Homo sapiens: one gene and its partner. The protein of the gene in region 2 purifies or fractionates together with the protein of the main gene of each other region. This does not show direct contact. Each region holds a gene or a part of one and is shown on either strand. Other genes may lie near its edges.

Region 1 (8,480 bases), on a different chromosome or scaffold from region 2:
TCACAAAGGCAGCGGGTGGAGAGGGGCGGAGTGGGAGAGTGGTCGTTGGGTAGTGGGGGTTCGAACCAGTGCCCGTCAGGGGTCCAATGGAGCCGGTAACAGAGCTTCAAGGGCCCGCCAGGGCGGAGAGTGGCGGCCGAGCTGTTGAGGGAGGTGGGTGGAGAAGGAGCGATTCCTGCCCAGGCAGGTCCCCTTGGCCCCCGAGTCTGTCCCCCAGATTGGGAAGCTGTGCTTAGTTTTCCCCAAGGGGTTGGGGCGGGGAGTGGGCAGCTATATAAAGGACATCCTTTCTTTTCTTTCTTCTCCTTCCTCTGCACAACTACCCCACCACCACCACACACACAACCCCTCCAAACAACACGCACACCTTTCAGGGCGGTGGCTCAGTGGTTTCTGGGCTTTTAGTGGGAAGTCGCTGGGGCTGTTGTAGTGACCTCTGGACCTTCTCTTTTGGCATCCAGGACTCAGGTTGGAACCAAGGGTCAAAATTGCCCTTCCTCTCAATTTTCTGGAGGTCCCAGCAATGTGCGAACAACCCCACTTAGCAGGAAACTGGGGAGCTTTGACCTGCTCCATCCGTGATCACTGATTCCTGTATCTCAAATTTCTTCCTGTCCACTCTTGCTGCCCCACGCCGCCTCCCCCCCAGCCCCGCCCTGCCCCGGGTAACTTCCCAGGCTCCTGCCTACCTTGGCCTCTTGGGTCCCAGGGACGTTTGATCTCTCAGCCCTGGAGTAGGAGAAGGCAGCTTTAGTTTTCTTCTCCTCGATTAAGGTAGAGTCCTATTACTGGTTGGTGGGATGGCTAAACCAGGGTTGGGGTGGAGGGCTCTCCCTGGGTACAAGGAAAGGGATTGGCAAGAATTTCTTTCCTACCCAGAAGCCAAACGGGGTACAACACTCTCCTAACAGCAGGGGCTCAAAATGCTCTGGGAGCTCTGGGCTGCTTGAGCCCAGGGGGGAACGTTGTGAAGTGCTCAGTGGTTGTGAAGTGCTCAGTGGTTGTGAAGTGCTCAGTTACCCTGGTAAGGGTGGAGGCTGGAAATGTTCTGTCTTGAGCCAGGAGAGTTGAAATCCGCCTGGGGTAGCCCATCATAGGGGCTCATGGGAGTGACCTAATTGCTCTCTCGGGTCTCTAACCAGAGATAGCATGCAGCTCCACAGCTGGAAAGGAGCCCTCCTGCAGAGTTGGGGGTGCTGGAAGAAACACGATCTGTCTGTGCTTCCCCCTTTTTGTGCTCAGAGACTTTAGTGCTCTGGACTGGCTTACAGGTTTTGGGGGGTGGTATCCTCTCTGACCCCCCTCCTCATCTACCTCAAGCTGAGGGCAGGCATTGTGGGGTGAGGATGGGGGGTGGCTGAAGACTCTCTAGAAACTGTCCGAATTCCATTCTGTAATTGGGTAGATCCTGGGAAGGATCAGAGACTGATCCTGGTGCACCCTCCTTCCATCCAGGCTCAGGGGTCTGGAATGCAGCCACTGTCTACATGTGTTGGCTCGGGGTGGTGGGGGCAAATGGACAGGAAGGAGGCACTGCCCTCAGCTCTCCTTGAGCTTTGGGGGCTGCTTCTGCCACCGCGCCCAACCCTCAGGCTGCCACAGCCTTTCAAATAAACAGTCCCTCTCTGTCTCCCTCCCTCTCTGCCTCCTGCCCGAGTTCTCCTCTCAGGCCCGTGTCAGTTCGCCCTCTCATACCCTCCGCGAGCAGCGCTCACTTCCCCTCTCCAGCTAGGCTCGCCTGCTCTGCCTTGCTCTCACACTCCCTCTCACTCTTAGTCACTCTCTGCCTCTTTTTCTCAAGTCCTTTTGTTTCTCGCACATGCCCGTGCTCTCCCTCTCAGGCTCATTTTCTCTCTTCCTTCCCCTCTTCCTCTCCTGGCTTTTGGTCTCTCTCCTCAGCCCTGTCAGAAGCTGGCAACCCCCCTCCCAAAAAAGAAAATCTCCCAGTGCCTATAAACCCTGCTTAATTGCTTCCTTCTTGGGAAAAAAAAAATCAAAATAAAAGAAGTGGTGGGGCTGGGGGTCCGCTTCCAGGTTCCAAGGTGCGTGCGGCCCGGCCCCAGCCCTGACTGAGAGGGGAAGCGGGAATGGCTGGCCCAAGACTCCCAAGCCTCTTTCCCAAATTGGTGCTGGGGCCTTCTGGGATGCTAGTCCCTGAGTGGCAGGAGCTTCTGCCTCCTTGGCCCCTCCTGTCAGATTTGCCCCATGAGCGCAAGGTGGGGGGATGGGTTTGGTCCTGCTAGAGTTTTTTTTAGGAACCTCTGTGTGTGCGTGTGTGTGTGTGTGTGTGTGTGTGTGTGTCTGAGTTGGGGGGCTGTTATCTAAATGGTCCTAGGCGACCCCTCCCGCAGCCTCTTCCCCTGGGAACTTGGGGCAGCCGGCAGGCCTCACACTTGAGTCCTCAGCCAAGTCCAGCTGCTGCAGTTCAGTCTCTCAGTCCCGTCCTGACCCCTTCCTGCCCCCCACTCAGGTTCCCCCACCTCCAGGGAGTCAGAATGTGCCTGAGATCACATTACAAACATTCCCTACAAGGGGGTGGGGGTGGGGGGGTTCAGCTTGGCATCCAGGACCCTTGACTCCAGCATGGGTGGGGGCAGCTGCAGACCCCAACCCATGCTTGCCTGCTCCAAGCCAAAGTGTTGGCCCCAGCCCCACACAGCTGTTCTAGCTCACAGTCCTGGGGAGGCCAGCTCAGGGGGCCCTTTTCCGGGGTGGTTAGGGACCTGACCTCTTCTACTTTGTGGCTGATTGGCCACAGGTGGGAGCCTGAGAGTGATGGGAATCCAGCAGCTCCTAAAGTCCCCTGTTCCCCTGCCTCCCCTCTCCCACATAGGGCAGCCAGGCAAGGGCAAGAAGGACCTGTGAGGCTGGGGTGGGGACTGAATCAAGGGTTCCCTTTCTTCCCTTGGGCTCTCTGTTGTCTCATCCGCTCAGGTGAATGGGGATGCGTGGGCCCTGGATACTATGGTGCATCACTGTTTTCTGGGGTTAGGGACTAAAGGAGATAGAGTGGGCCAGCCAGGAGGCTGCTAGTTGCCATGGGAACACCAGGTTTGGGGGAGAGTCCACTCTGTGACTATTAGAGGAGCTGAGATACGGGGGTGCTCACCAGCCACATTCTGGGTTCCTTACCCCGCAGACCATAGCAGCCCCTCTTGGGCGTGTTTCACGATCATTGTTTTGGGTCAGGGTGCTAGCAGCCAGGAATGTAAGCTCCTTCAGCTTTTTACTTCTAAATAATGCTGTGTTTGGCATGCTAACTAATAGGCAGGCGGCACCTTGCTACTTACAATGCATTCTCATATATGATCTCATCGAATGCTCCCAACAACCCTGGGAAGTAGGTATTGGTCCCATTTTCCAGATAAGAAGGCATATGCCCGGACAAGGGAAGTGACTTGTCTAAGGCCAGTCAATGACTTGCCTATGGGGGCAGAGCTGTGTTGTGTGCCATTCATTCCTGCTGCCTTGAAATGTAGGAGAGACAGGAATTCAAGGTGGGGTTTGGGAAGAGGCCCTGGCTCCCTGCCCCTGAGTTCCCCTCTTACCTCGCAGGTGTGCAAGCATCTGTCCCTGTGACTCAGGCCCTGTCTGTGTGGGGTGAGCAGTGCTCCAACTTCCTCATTTGACTTTTCTAGGCCTACCTTCCAGGGCTGACTGCTTGGGTGACCTGAACTAAAGGCAGCCAACTCACTGCCTGGCACACTCCCTGCGGAGCTCTGAGTGGCACCTTTGGTTCCTCTCTGAGCTAAGAATCTCTCTTCTCAGGGACCCCACAGAAAGCAGACATCGACATCGAGGAGGGGGGGTATTAAATTCATAATGGACACGAGCCTTAGCCAGGTGGGGCAGAGGGAAGGGCATAGTTCAGTGTAGATGGGGAGGGTGACTTCCTCCAGGACTCTCCTGGCTTCCCTGCCTCTGACAGAGCTGTGTGTGCCAGGACCCAGCTGCTGTTCCTGCCCACCCACGCCTGGGCGGGCACTGCTGGGACATGCCAGGCCTGCTCCTGCCAGCCTCGGGGGCTGGGTGGAGCTGGGGGAGTTAAAGAGGAGCCTTTAATTTGGGGGCTCCCCACCCTAGCTGGGATGAGAACAGACTTGAGCTCTGGCTTGGGGTCTGTCCTCCATTGGTCTTGCCACCCTGGGAGGTGCAGGTGCAGTGGTCGTGGGGTCACTGAATCGAGGTTGAGGCTAGAGGCTTCTACCAGACTTGGGCTTGCATGGCCTAGAACCAGGCTCCCCCTTTGGTCATTCTCTGACCACAAGTTGCTAGAGCCTGAGAGCAGGGTGACAGGGAAAGAAGTATAGACCTGGTGGGATGTGGGCAGCTTTCTGGGCAAGACCCTCCTAGCTGCAAGCTCTCCCTGCCCCCTGTAAATTGTATTCACATGGGTGGAGAAGGGCTTATCCGGAGAAAACAAGGAGGGGGCTGTTGGTTAGTTGGTTTCTGGCCAGTCCAGGGCCTTGGAGGCTACTGTCCCCAACCCCTTCAGGCTTTTCATATCCCAGGATTCTTTGTGGCAGTGATGGCATCGTGGTGCTTCTAAGCTAGGTAGAAAGGCTGAAGGTAGAACTTGGGTTAGGGTAGAGGGGGAAGAGCTGGAATAGCTTAGGCCGCCTCCCCCAAGTCCTTTTACTCCCTGGGGTGGCGCCCTGGGGTCCCAGGGCTATCTGAGGCTGGAGAGGGAAGGCCTCAGGGGTTACCATGGTGACCTGCTTCAGGCTTCCTGCTGAGCCATGTCAATCCCTTTATTTTTCAGAAAAGGGCTTTGTCTGGGGGTGGCCCCAGACAGAAAAGCTTGGCTTGGTCCTAGGGTGGGGGGAAGTAAGGTGGAGGATAAAGAGTTTCACTTCGGGATATCTCTTCCTCCTCTTCCCTTACTCCTACTCCTAATCTGGTAAGAGGGGAGAACTGTAGGGTCCCCCTTTAAAGTATGACTAGTGTTCTACCTAGCTTTGGCCTTCACTCTCACTGGCTATACACCCATCCCTTATGGCCCGTTACCACTCTCTTGAGCTTCTGACAGGTCAAGACGAGGTTTGCCCAGTGGTCGGGAAGATGCTAAGGTTACCAGTATGGGGGATCAGGGTCAGGGAAGGCGGGTCTCATCAGGCTCCGCTCCCTTCTGCACTTCAGGGGAAGGTGAGTTTCCCTCTGCCAGCTGCCATGCAAATGAACTAATGAATATTTATGAAGTCTGTTCACTGAGGTTGAAGAGACTCTGAGGGGTTTTGGGGGCAATAGTTCTCTCTTCTCCCCCCTCCTCCATCATGTAGACATCTGTTTCCTCAATGCCTCTGGCTTCAAGGTAGAACCCCAATTAGCTAGAAGCCCTGTTCCAATTCCAGGGCTCTGGAACCTGGGTGGCAATGGGAGACTGCACTTGGGGTAGACAGGACTCCCTGGTGAGTAAGCCAGAACCGAGTGGTTAGAAAGCTGAGCTGGCCTGTCTCCCTTTCCGTGCCCTCTATGTAGCTGCATATATATGTGTTGTTAAGATGCAACAGTACAAGGATTCAGGTAATGTTTTAGGGCCTCTTAGACCCATCGGGTTATTGTCCTGGGTAGGTTTAGACCCCTCTTTTCAATGGGAACATTCATCTGATCATTCATTCCCTCACATGAAGGGCCTGGACTCTAAGGTTCCTGCTGGCTCTAAGATGTGAGCAGTTGTCTAATCCTGCCATCTGGATGGAACCGTTGTGAGCACTGGAAAGGGAAAAAATGCCTGGAGAATTCTAGAGGCTTTGGGGAAACTTGTTGGCTTTGTATGGTGCATGGGACAGGGGTATTCCATCTGAAATGTTTATCCAGGCTTCCATCCCATGCCTACTTCCTTTCTGGGCCCTCTATAGTTAGGTACCAGTGGGGAGGCCATCTCATTCTGGCTTTTACCCTCCTGCACATCAAGATGGCAGCTCCCAATTTGGTGGAGCCTCACTCGACATGGAGGAAAGGCTGCTTTTCTTCGTCCACTTCATCCATGTGGTCAGTTTCCCTCTTCGCCTACTTGGGTATCATTTCCCTCCCTCAGATGAGGACACAGGTTTGGCATTGCAAAGGCATTTGCCCAGAGTTCCCAGTAGGCCGGTATTGCTTGTAGTACCTTTGGTGTAATGGGCCCTCAGGAAATGGAACCACTCTTTTCTCAGATGATTGTGGTAGCCTGTGAACTGGTGCATGACACTGTCAGCTTCATTCTCTTTAAGCACTGCCTGAAGCCTTCCATTGTCCTTCCTGCTCTGAGAGCCTGTCTCCAATGGGATGAAACCCACCCTGCTTGCTGTGACCCTTGAAGCCTTTCAGTCTGGCCCCAGGTGAACTTTTCACCTCTTCTTCTGTTTCTCTCTTCTCACTCCCAGCCAAGCTGGACCAATCACTGGCCTGGGCTTTGTGTTGTAGCCACTGCTGTCTACTGTCTCAGTGTGTTGACTTCTTATTCCTCACCTAAGACCCACTTTCATCCTGCCTTTCCTGTGGATACATCTCTGACCATCCTGGTCAGATGAGCTATCTCTTTCTTCTCCCTGCCTCCAGCCCTTGCTGCTTGAATCATCATCCTCACACATACCTACAGATAGCCTGGTGTTGTCTATCACTCGAGTATGGGTTATTTACTTTTCTGACCCAAACTGGACAGTAAAGTCCTTGACGATGGAGCCATATCTTCTCTTCCTGTTTCCCCTCCAAAATATGAGAGTGAGCTCATAGGTACTTAGTGTTAGTATCTGACCTCCTGCCTCTTGGGAGACTGCTTCTAAGAGGCAGTCAAACATGTTGAACGCCTATTGTGTGCTAGGTGTTCTCCATGTGCTGCCTTGTCTCCCCACCACAATATTGGAAGGTAGGGGCTCTTGCCACCCCCACTTTACAAGAGAAGAAACTGAAGCTCAGAACAGGCAGCTCATCCAAGGTCACAGAGTTAGTAAGGGCCTAGCTTTGGAATCTGATTCTAAAGTCTGTGTTCTTTCTCCTACATGGTTCTGCCTTGCTCTCAGCACCAGCCCATCCAGTCTCAGAAATGGCCAATGGAGCACCATTTTCTTTCTGTGTGCTTAGGCAAGGACAGAGTCCTATGGATAGGTGGTCCTGGGCTGCTGACCCTCCCTGCTGTCCCCCAGTGCCTGGCCTTCTGGATTAGAATATGAACCTGGCTCAAAAGGCATTTGTCCATCTCCTCTCAGGAGCTGGAGTAGGAGCAACATAGAGGTGACAGGTTAGGATACAGATGAGGCCCTATCTTCTATGATCTGTTGTCTCTGGTTGAGCCCCTTCTCTTCTCCTCTGTTCTTTTTAAGAATGAGATGAATCAAGTTTAGGAATTCAGGCTCTTGCATTTTGAGGGTGGGATGAATTGCCAGTAGGACAATAGGCAGTGGGAGTGAGCAGAGCTGCACCTGGCCAGAGACTGTGGCCATCATCCCTTTGCTCCAGGCGATGCCTGTTCCTATCTTTCCATCATGACCAAGATTAGTAAGGATGGGGGAGAAGACATGGGTCCCAGACAGATTGAGCTCCCCCAGCCTTTGGCTGGGAGCTGCGGGGAGTGGTGACTAAGACATGTGTGGGCTTGCTGTGTGTGTGTGTATGTGTGTGTGTGTGTGTGTGTGTGTGTGTGTGTGTGTGTGTGCGCGCGCGCGCGCGCACGTGTGTATGGGTATAGGAGAGGTAGTAGCAGCGGTCATGAAGGAATCTTTGTTGGGGGTGGGGGTATATAAGACTGCCACCTCCAGGTAGCATGGGCCTGACACCTTGGTACCCAGCCCATTGGCCACGTCAGCCCCCTGCGGAAATGCCACATTAGGACAAAGGGCTCCCCCAGCCAGGCAGTGCTCCACCCTGCCGAGCAGTCAGAGCCTGGCAGCCTTGCCCATGGGCCACCCCTTCCACACTCTCCTGGTAGTGTGGTTCTCTCTCCCCACCCCCAGCCTGAGGATGGAGGAAGGGCAGAAGGCTTGCTCTTGCCATCTCCACCCAGTAGGCCCAGCCCGGCTCTTGTCCGCTTCCCTGGTTCTGGAATGGCCTGGGGCCACCCCCAACCCTGAGGCTGACCATCTTCTTCCTTCTGGGCAGGTTCCTGAGTGGGAAGGGCTTGGTGATCTATCCGAAAATTGGAGACAAGCTGGACATCATCTGCCCCCGAGCAGAAGCAGGGCGGCCCTATGAGTACTACAAGCTGTACCTGGTGCGGCCTGAGCAGGCAGCTGCCTGTAGCACAGTTCTCGACCCCAACGTGTTGGTCACCTGCAATAGGCCAGAGCAGGAAATACGCTTTACCATCAAGTTCCAGGAGTTCAGCCCCAACTACATGGGCCTGGAGTTCAAGAAGCACCATGATTACTACATTACCTGTGAGTCCCGCCCATCCCATCCTCTGGCTCTCTCCCTGGGCTTAACTCTTTCCTCTCCTGTAGTAGTGGGAGCTTCTAAGTGGTGCAATGCTATTGCATGTAGTTAAGACCCTGCTGGATCTGATC
Region 2 (9,098 bases):
GTGTTTCCTGGCTGTGGGTGAACTTCGTGGACAGCATTAAACAACACAGCATCCCGCCCCCTGTGCGGGGCTGTCTGTCTGCCTTGGCACTTCCAGAAGGTCTCATTGTGGTGCTAGAGTATCTAACACTTTCTGACTTGCAGATCAACATTCCCTTTTCTTGTTAACAAAGAGCAGTGCCGGGCGCGGTGGCTCACACCTGTAATCCCAGCACTTTGGGAGGCTGAAGCGGGCAGATCATGAGGTCAGGAGTTCGAGACCAGCCTGGCCAGCATGGTAAAACCCTGTCTCTACTAAAAATACAAAAATTAGCCAGGCATGGTGGCAGGCGCCTGTAATCCCAGCTACTTGGGAAGCTGAGGCAGGAGAATCGCTTAAACCCAGAGGCGGAGGTTGCAGTGAGCGGAGATCGCGCCATCACACTGCAGCCTGGGCAACAGAGCGAGACTCCGTCTCAAAAACAACAACAAAAACAAAGAGCAGAGTTTTAGGTCAATGCTTCCAGCAGGGAACAGAATTTAGATCTTAACAATTTTGTTTACATTGTATTTATTTTCATGTTTTACCTTCTATTGATGGCAAATGAGACTGGTTTTCCATTTACAGAAGTGATACAAAAGATTCCTGTTGCAATAATTTCATTAAGTGAATAATGAGCCAATTTAAAGAAAAATATAAAGCAAATAATTGTACAGATGGTAAACTAATATGGCAAAATCACTAATATTCAAGGCTGAAGTTTGGCCGGGCATGGTGGCTCATGGCTGTAATCCCAACACTCTGAGAGATGGGGATGAGTGGCTCTCTCGAGCCCAGGAATTAAAGACCAGCCTGGGCAACATAGCAAGACCCTGTCTCTAAAAAAAAAAAATAGCCAGGTGTGGTGGTACATGCCTGTAGTTCCACCTACTAGGGAGACTGAGGTGGGAGGATCACTTAAGCCCAGGAGTTCAAGGCCGCAGTGAGCTGAGATTGTGCCACTGTAGTCCAGCCTGGGCAACAGAGTGAGACCCTGTTTCAAAAACAAAAAAAAGTGGCCGGGTGCAGTGCTCATACCTGTAATCCCAGCATTTTGGGAGGCTAAGGCTGCTGGATCACTTGAGCCCAGGAGTTGGAAACCTGCCCAGGCAGTATGGTGAGACCGTGTCTCTACAAAAAAAATACAAAAATTAGCTGGGCGTGGTGGTATGCACCTGCAGTCCCAGCTATTCTAGAGGTTGAGGTGGGAGGATCGCTTGAGCCTAGGAGTTCGAGGCTGTAGTGAGTTGAGATTGTGCCACTGCACTCCAGTCTGGGTGACAGAGTTGAGATTCTGTCTCAAAAAAAAAAAAAAAAAAAAAAAAAAGACAAAGTTTGGAAAATTAAACCCCCAGGGAAATGGAAACTACATCTGCTGCTCACCCACCTGCCTGCCTCTCCTAAAGGGAAGATTGGGTACTTGGGGTCCCATTTCTGTAGGGTGGAGCATTATAAGTAAGCCTAGCTTGTGGCAAATCTGTCTCTCTGGACACTCCAGCAAGCTGGAAGGGACGATGATCAGAGGTCACAGTTTGGGAGTTGCCCTGCTCTAGGACAACGCTCCTCTCCACATTGGATGAAACTCAGTTTCCCCTGGCCATGGCCTTCCTCACCATGGAGTGGTGAGGGTCCGAGGCTGAGACGTGTGCAGATGGAGGAGAATGGGCAGAGGAGCCTGTGGGTTTTCTCTGACTCTAGGTCCCCACTCCAGCAAGACAGCGCCGCTGCAGCTTGGCCCAGCAAGTTCCTCCTTGCAGTTTGGGGGTCAAAGCCACAGTTCATATGAAACAAAATGTTCCTCTGCCTGGTCTGGTCCTCTCTTTGTGTATTTTCCTAGAGGACCTCACAGTGGGTGAGTGGCCAAGGAGAACAGGATTTGTGGCTCTGGGAAACTGGATTCCTGTCATCTCCTGCCAGCTGTCATCGCCACACCGAGGCTGTTCAGCACCGCAGGACCCGTTCTCTTTGGTATTGGTGGCTTCGGTAAACACTGAAAGAAGGTGGAGGTGGCTGGTCGATGCCATTTCCTGACTATCTAGTACCTTGGGTTCTTCATCTGGATGCGATCTTGAAGGCTTCTGGCCTGGCATTGGCTCCACCCCCAGGTCTCTGAGCCACAGCCCAGGTAGCTGAGCAGAGGCACTGCTGGGCTTCCCCTAGTCCACATAGCCTGGCCACCACCCAGACCCGGGGAGGGGGACTCCAGGTGGAAGGAGCCTGGGAAGGGCATCTTCGCTGGGGCAGTCTCAATCCTAATGCTGGATCCTGGGGTCCCCGGTCCCACTGAGGCAAGGCCTGCCTCGGGGATCTCTGGGGAACCCTGGGGATTCAGAACCCCACACTGGTCCGGCCTTCACGCTTCCAGAAAGCTGAGATCTGCTCCAAGGTGACCCGTGGCTGGAGGCCCCACTCAGGATCCGGGCTCCCTGGCCGCTGCCTCCTGGCCTGGGGGCTCCCAAACTGGACGCTGGCCTCTGGCCTCTGCTCGGGTTCAGCCCAGCTCACCAGGCCTGTGGCGGGGGGCCTCCCCTCCCAGGGCTGGGGCCCCCAGAAGGTGCTCCGGGCTGGGACCTCCAGTACGGTCTGGGGGCCCAAGTTGCTGGGAGCAGAATTTGGGGCTGAGGGGGCAGGTGGGGCTGTTGCTCGGGCCTCCAAAGTGCCCACCTGGGTGGGAGGCTCAGGGGCCCGATCTGTCAGCAGGGGGACCGCAGAGCCATACCAGTCCTCAGAGCGCTCTCGGGCGGTGCCCATGGGCTCAATCCACAGCTCTCCTCCTGGGCGCCACACCAGGGTGGGTGCACGGTGGCTGGGGTCTGGGCGGAGAGCACGGCGGAACAGGCGTTCAGCCAACACAGCGGTGGTGAGGATGAAGAGCGCAGCCAGGGTGGCCAGGACCAGCATGATGGGGATGCAGGGCCCACAGGGCAGTGAGGGCCATGGGGCTGCTTCCCATGCGGGGGGCCCCTCCACGCGCCCAGAGGGCGGCTCTGGAGTCAACGGCATCTGAGAGACACAGGGGTGAGAAGAGGAAGTAAATGAGGCAGAGGGGGCACAACCAAGATGAGAGAGAGGCAGCAGGTGTCCAGGAAAGCCTGGGAGAAGGGCTGGGCATGGGGGCTCATGCCTGGAATCCCAGCACTTTGAGAGGTCGAGGCGGGAGGATCACTTGAGCCCAGGAGTTCAAGACCAGCCTGGACACACAGTGAAACCTCATCTCTAAAAATAATTTAAAAACTAGCTGGGTGTGGTGGCTCACACCTGTAGTCCCAGCTACACAGGAAGCTGAGGTGGGAGGATTACTTGAGCCCAGGAGTTTGAAGCTGCAGTGACCCCAGATTGCACCACTGTCCTCCAGCCTGGGCAATAGAGCAAGACCCTTTCTCAAAAATGAAAAAGAACATTCTGGAGAGACAGAGAAGCAAGAGGGACCAGAAAGGGTAAGCGTGAGCCAGGTGGGGTGGGAGGACAGGCAGCCTACCTCGGGGCACAGCCAGGCCCTCCTGCCTGGCTCTCCAGGCCTTTCCAGAATCCCCATTTCCCTCCCAGACCCCAGGGTGCCTCAGACAAGAAAGGTCTCAAGGGCTTCTTTCCTCCCCACTCGGCCCCCTCAAGTCTTGCTCAGACCTAGAGAGGAAGTGGTGGGTGAAGAAATGAGAACCTCCCCTCCCACTGGCTCCCCTGCGTGTGTCTCCCCCACCGCCTGCCGCCAGCACCTCCGCTGGCCCCTTGAGGCTCCTTCGCCCCTCACCATTCTCCTCGGACTTGATCTTGCTCTCATAGGCTCCACGGAATCTGCTGCCGGGCCGGGCCGGGCCAGGCCTCCGGAGGCGCCTCTGCACCCCTCCTGGGCTCCCCAGCTTTGCCCAGGCTCTGGCCTGTCTCTATCTCTCGTTTGTCTCTGCACACCTCTCTGTCCCCCACATCCTCCATCTGCAGGGGGCCTCCTGCACCCCTCAACTCACCTTGGGTCAGTCCCTGGGCTCCTCTCCCTCCTAGAGCCACTCTTCCTGGTGCTGGACTAAGAGGTGCAGGCTTGGAGGGTGCAGGGCGGTCCGCCTCTCAGACGTAGAGGCCCGGCCTCGGATGAAGGCGGAAGGGAGGGCACCGCCTGTTGCTGGGCAACTGTGCCCCAACTCGTCTGCCCCTGGGGAGTGTTTGTTTCCAAAGCAACCCAAGGGGATGTGGTCACTGCGGTGAGGAGGCTTTTCCTGGGGTAAGGTGGGGCTGGAATGGGCAATGGTTCTGTTGAACTTAGTGTCACCCCATAGCCAGGCCCTGAGCCCCAGAACATTCACCGAAAAGCTGAGAAAGAGGACGCCGGGGCCAGGCACAGTGGCTCACCCCTGTAATCCCAGCATTTTGGGAGGTCAAGGTGGGCAAGTCACCTGAGGTCAGGAGTTCGAGACCAGCCTGCCAACATGGCGAAACCCCATCTCTACTGAAAAATACAAAAATTAGCTGGGCATGGTGACGGGCACTTGTAATCTCAGCTGCTCAGGCGGCTGAGGCAGGGAGAATCGCTTGAACCCGGGACTCGGAGGTTGCAGTGAGCTGAGATCGTGCCACCACACTCCAGCCTGGGCAACAGAGTGAGACTCCGTCTTAAAAAAAAAGAAAAGAAAAGAAAAGAAAAAGAAATAGGACACTGGGACTTTAGCCCGTACATTCCCAGAGAACCATGGTGCCTCCCCCGTTCCTCCTGGGAGGATGCCCCACCCCATCCTGCCTTGTCTTATCCACGGTGCCTCCCCAGATCTGCTCCTGCCATGCAGCCCCCACAGGCACCCCCTGCTTGGCCAGCTTGCTTCACACCTTTTTTTTTTTTTTCTGGTAGAGATGGGCTCTTGCTATGTTGCCCAGGCTGGTCTCAAGCTCCTGGCCTCAAGAGATCCTCCTGCCTCAGCCTCCCAAAGTGCTGGGATTACAGGTGTGAGCTACCACACTGGCCCCTGCCTCATACTTTTAATTAACATAAGTCTCTCTCTCTTCAGACCATTTAGCCCCCATTTTGGTTGGAAAATATCAGTGAGGTGAGGCTTGGGTAACAAAAATGTCAAGCCTCTGAGAGGAGTCCAGGGTATAAAAACAGGCGTGGGCCTGTTTCCAAAACCCTGACCATCCTCATGTCTGTCCCTCTTTCCTGCTGCTGAGGGTGGGAGGAGCCTGGAGCAGAGTGTGACAAGATGTCATCAGGCTCTGGAGTCCAGGTGACTTTCTGAGATTCTCTAGTTTGACTCATCCACAGATGACAAAAGTAAGGCTTAAAGAAAAGAGATTTCATGACCAAAGTCGCATGACCAATGTATGTGTGGGTGAGCATGTAGTGGCCAGGGTGGTGGAAGAATAGATAGAAATCCCTGGGCTGGGCGAGGTGGCTCATGCCTGTAATCCCAGCACTTTGGGAGACCGAGGCGGGTGGATCACCTGAGGTCAGGAGTTTGGGAGCAGCCTGGCCAACATGGCAAAACCCCGTCTCTACTAAAAATACAAAAATTAGCCGGGCGTGGTGCCGCACGCCTATGACCCCAACTACTCAGGAGGCTGAGGCAGGAGAATCGCTTGAACCCGGTGCAGTGAGCCGAGATCGTGCCATTCCACTCCAGCCTGGGCAACAGAGCGAGACTCTGTCTCAAAATAAATAAATTAAATAAATAAATGAATGAAAAGACAGTCTCCGTCAGACTGCCCCATCCTGGTGGTTTTGAGCCCTGCTGGGAGGAGCTGGAGATGGAGAGTCCGGGGGAAACCGCCTTTGCAAAGAAAGAGATCTAACTTAACTGACTCCACCTTGCTTCTAACCTCCAAGCTGTCTTTGTTTATTCCTGGGCGTAGGCTGAACTAACTTTGGGAGAAACTTAGTTTGTAGTTTATAGTTTAAACAAAGACAGTAACAGCCCTTTCCCAAAGCAGACCTTCTTGCCTGGGGACTAGACTAACACTAGCCATAGGATTAGAAATTATGGTTTAGGAGTCATGCAGCTGGAGGCTACAAGATTCTGACCCTCCCTAAACTGCTCCTAACATCAGTGCTTGAGATATTTTGCAGACCCTGCACTTGATGGATCAGCTGGCACCACCCAGATCAATAAACTGGCTCATCTGATCTTGTGGCCCCCACCCAGAACTGACTCTGCAAGAAGACAGCTCTGACTCCTGATGATTTCATCTCTGACCAATCTGCACTCCCAGATCCCAGCACTTTGGGAGGACCAGACAGGCAGATCACAAGGTCAGGATGAGAGGTGACAGCGTGCTGGCAGCCCTCACTCACTCTGGGCGCCTCCTCGGCCTCCACGCCAACTCTCCCTGCGCTTGAGGAGCCCTTCAGCCCGCCGCTGCACTGTGGGAGCCCCTCTCTGGGCTGGCCGAGGCGGGAGCCCGCTCCCTCTGCTTGCCAGAGGTGTGGAGGGAGAGGCGCGGACGGGAACTGGGGCTGCGGGCCACGCTCGAGGGCCAGCATGAGTTCCGGGTGGGCGTGGGCTCGGTGGGCCCCGCACTCAGAGAGGCCGGCTGGCGCCATTGGCCCCAGGCAGTGAGGGGCTTAGCACCCAGACCAGCAGCTGCAGAGGGTGCGCCAGGTCCCCCAGCAGTGCCAGCCCACAGGTGCACTTGAATTCTCGCAGGCCTCAGCTGCCTCCCCACGGGGCAGGGCTTGGGACCTGCAGCCCGCCATGCCCAAGCGTCCCCCTGCCTGGGCTCCTGCACCGCCCCCTGCTCTGCGGGGCCTGGTCCCATCAACCGCCCAAGGGCTGAGGAGTGCAGGCACAGGATTGGTGGGCAGCTCCACCTGCAGCCCAGGTGCTAGGTCCACTAGGTGAAGCCAGCTGGGCTCTTGAGTCTAGTGGGCACTTGGAGAACCTTTATGTCTAGCTAAGGGATTGTAAATACACCAATCAGCACTCTGTGTCTAGCTCAAGGTTTGTAAACACACCAATCAGCACCCTGTCAAAATGGACCAATCAGCTCTCTATAAAACAGACCAGTTGGCTCTCTGTAAAATGGGCCAATCAGCAGGATGTGGGTGGGGCCAGATAAGGCAATAAAAGCAGGCTGCCAGAGCCAGCAGTGGCAACTCGGCGTACCCTTCCACATAGGAAGCTTTGTTCTTTTGATCTTTCCAATAAATCTTGCTGCTGCTTATCCTGGGTCTGCACTGCCTTTATGAGCTGTAACATCGTGAAGGTCTGCAGCTTCACGCCAGAGGCCAGCGAGACCACGAACCCACCAGAAGGAAGAAACTCGGAACACGTCCGAACATCAGAAGGAACAAACTCCGGACATGCCGCCTTTAAGAACTGAAACACTCACCGTGAGGGTCCGCAGCTTCATTCTTGAAGTCAGTGAGACCAAGAACCCGCCAATTCTGGACACAAGGAGATCGAGACCATCCTGGCTAACACGGTGAAACCCCATCTCTACTAAAAATACAAAAAATTTATTAGGCGTGTTGGCGGATGCCTGTAGTCCCAGCTAGTCCCAGCTACTCCCAGCTACTTGGGAGGCTGAGGCGGGAGAATGGCATGAACCTGGGAGGCGGAGCTTGCAGTGAGCCGAGATTGCGCCACTGCCCTCAAGCCTGGGCGACAGAGCAAGACTCCATCTCAAAAAAACAAAACAAAAACAAACAAAAAAACCCTCTGTTTCCCGAATGCTCAGGGAGACTGATTTGAGTAATAATAAAACTCCTGGCTGGACACAGTGGCTCACGCCTGTAATTTCAGCAATTTGGGAGGCCAAGGCCGGTGGATCACCTTAGGTTGGGAGTTTGAGACCAGCGTGACCAACATGGAGAAAACACTGTCTCTACTAAAAATACAAAATTAGCCAGGTGTGGTGGCAAGTGCCTGTAATCCCAGCTACTCAGGAGGCTGAGGCAGGAGAATCACTTAAACCCTGGAGGCGGAGGTTGCAGTGAGCCGAGGTGGCACCATTGTACTCCAGCCTGGGCAAAAAGAGCAAAACCGTCAAAAAAAAAAAAAAAAAAAAAAAAAAAACTCCGGTCTCCTGCACAGCTGGCTCTGTGTGAATTACTCTTTATTGCAATTTTGCTGTCTTGATGAATCGGCTATGTGTAGGCAGCGGGCAAGGTGAACCCCTTTGGCAGTTACAGGGGGAAGCTAAGGCTCAGGACACTCGCAGAAACCTGAGGAGGCTAGAATTTTACCAGATTACAAGCCTTAAAATCAAACCTGAAGTTAGTGCCAGCGAACAACACGCTTAAAAATAACTAAGATGTTCTTTCTGGCTGTTCTAGAGGTCAATATAGAAAAATGATAGTAACTTTGATGTTATTTTATGTTATGTATTTCTTTTTTTCTTTTGAGACGGAGTCTGTCTCTGTTGCCCAGGCTGGAGTGCGGTGACGCAATCTTGGCTCACTGCAACCTCCGCCTCCCGGGTTCAAGATATTCTTCTGCTTCAGCCATCCAAGTAGCTGGGATTACAGGTGTGTACCACCGTGCCTGGCAGTTATGTGTGTTTCCCTACAATCAAACAATGATTTATTGTAAAAAAAAAAAAAATCAAAATAAACAAAACCTGAAAACTTGTATGTGCTCTTTTAATCAATCTTTTTAAACAAACTTTTAGAAGAGTTAACATTATTAAAAACTGGAAAGATCAGACATGGTTTTTTCTTACTAAGATATCACTGGCTGTTTTGATTCTTTCATCACGTACAAGTTTAGGCCCTACACAATGGTTCATGCCTGTAATCCCAGCACTTTGGGAGGCCAAGACAGGTGGATCACCTAAGGTCGGGAGTTTGAGGCCAGCCTGACCAACATGGCGAAACCCCGTCTCTACTAAACATACCAAAAAAGGCCGGGTGAGGTGACTCACACCTGTAATTCCAGCACTTTGGGAGGCCAAAGCAGGCGGATCATGAGGTCAGGAGTTCGACACCAACTTGGCCAACATGGTGAAACCCTGTCTCTACTAGAAATACAAAAATTAGCCGGGTTTGGTGGCAGGTGCCTGTAGTCCCAGCTACTTGAGAGGCTGAGGCAGGAGAATCGCTTGAACCCAGGAGGTGGAGGTTGTAGTGGGCCGGGATCATGCCACTGCACTCCAGCCTGGGT

What was found.
Region 1: the proteins of C16orf54 (region 2) and EFNB1 purify together in Homo sapiens (affinity purification with mass spectrometry; 2 studies listed by BioGRID and IntAct, with this or other methods). This does not show direct contact.

Annotation. Positions count from the first base shown.
Region 1 is NC_000023.11:68,830,541-68,839,020, forward strand, and holds part of EFNB1 (ephrin-B1 precursor), read left to right. Parts: intron 1-8,076; coding exon 8,077-8,354; intron 8,355-8,480. UniProt on the Homo sapiens protein: Cell surface transmembrane ligand for Eph receptors, a family of receptor tyrosine kinases which are crucial for migration, repulsion and adhesion during neuronal, vascular and epithelial development.
Region 2 is NC_000016.10:29,741,931-29,751,028, forward strand, and holds C16orf54 (transmembrane protein C16orf54), read right to left. Parts: upstream 4,061-9,098; 5' UTR 3,981-4,060; exon of another isoform or gene 3,797-3,980; coding exon of another isoform or gene 3,767-3,796; intron 3,694-3,766; exon of another isoform or gene 3,554-3,693; coding exon of another isoform or gene 3,497-3,553; intron 3,456-3,496; exon of another isoform or gene 3,317-3,455; intron 3,022-3,316; coding exon 2,347-3,021; 3' UTR 2,009-2,346; coding exon of another isoform or gene 1,960-2,008; 3' UTR 533-1,959; downstream 1-532.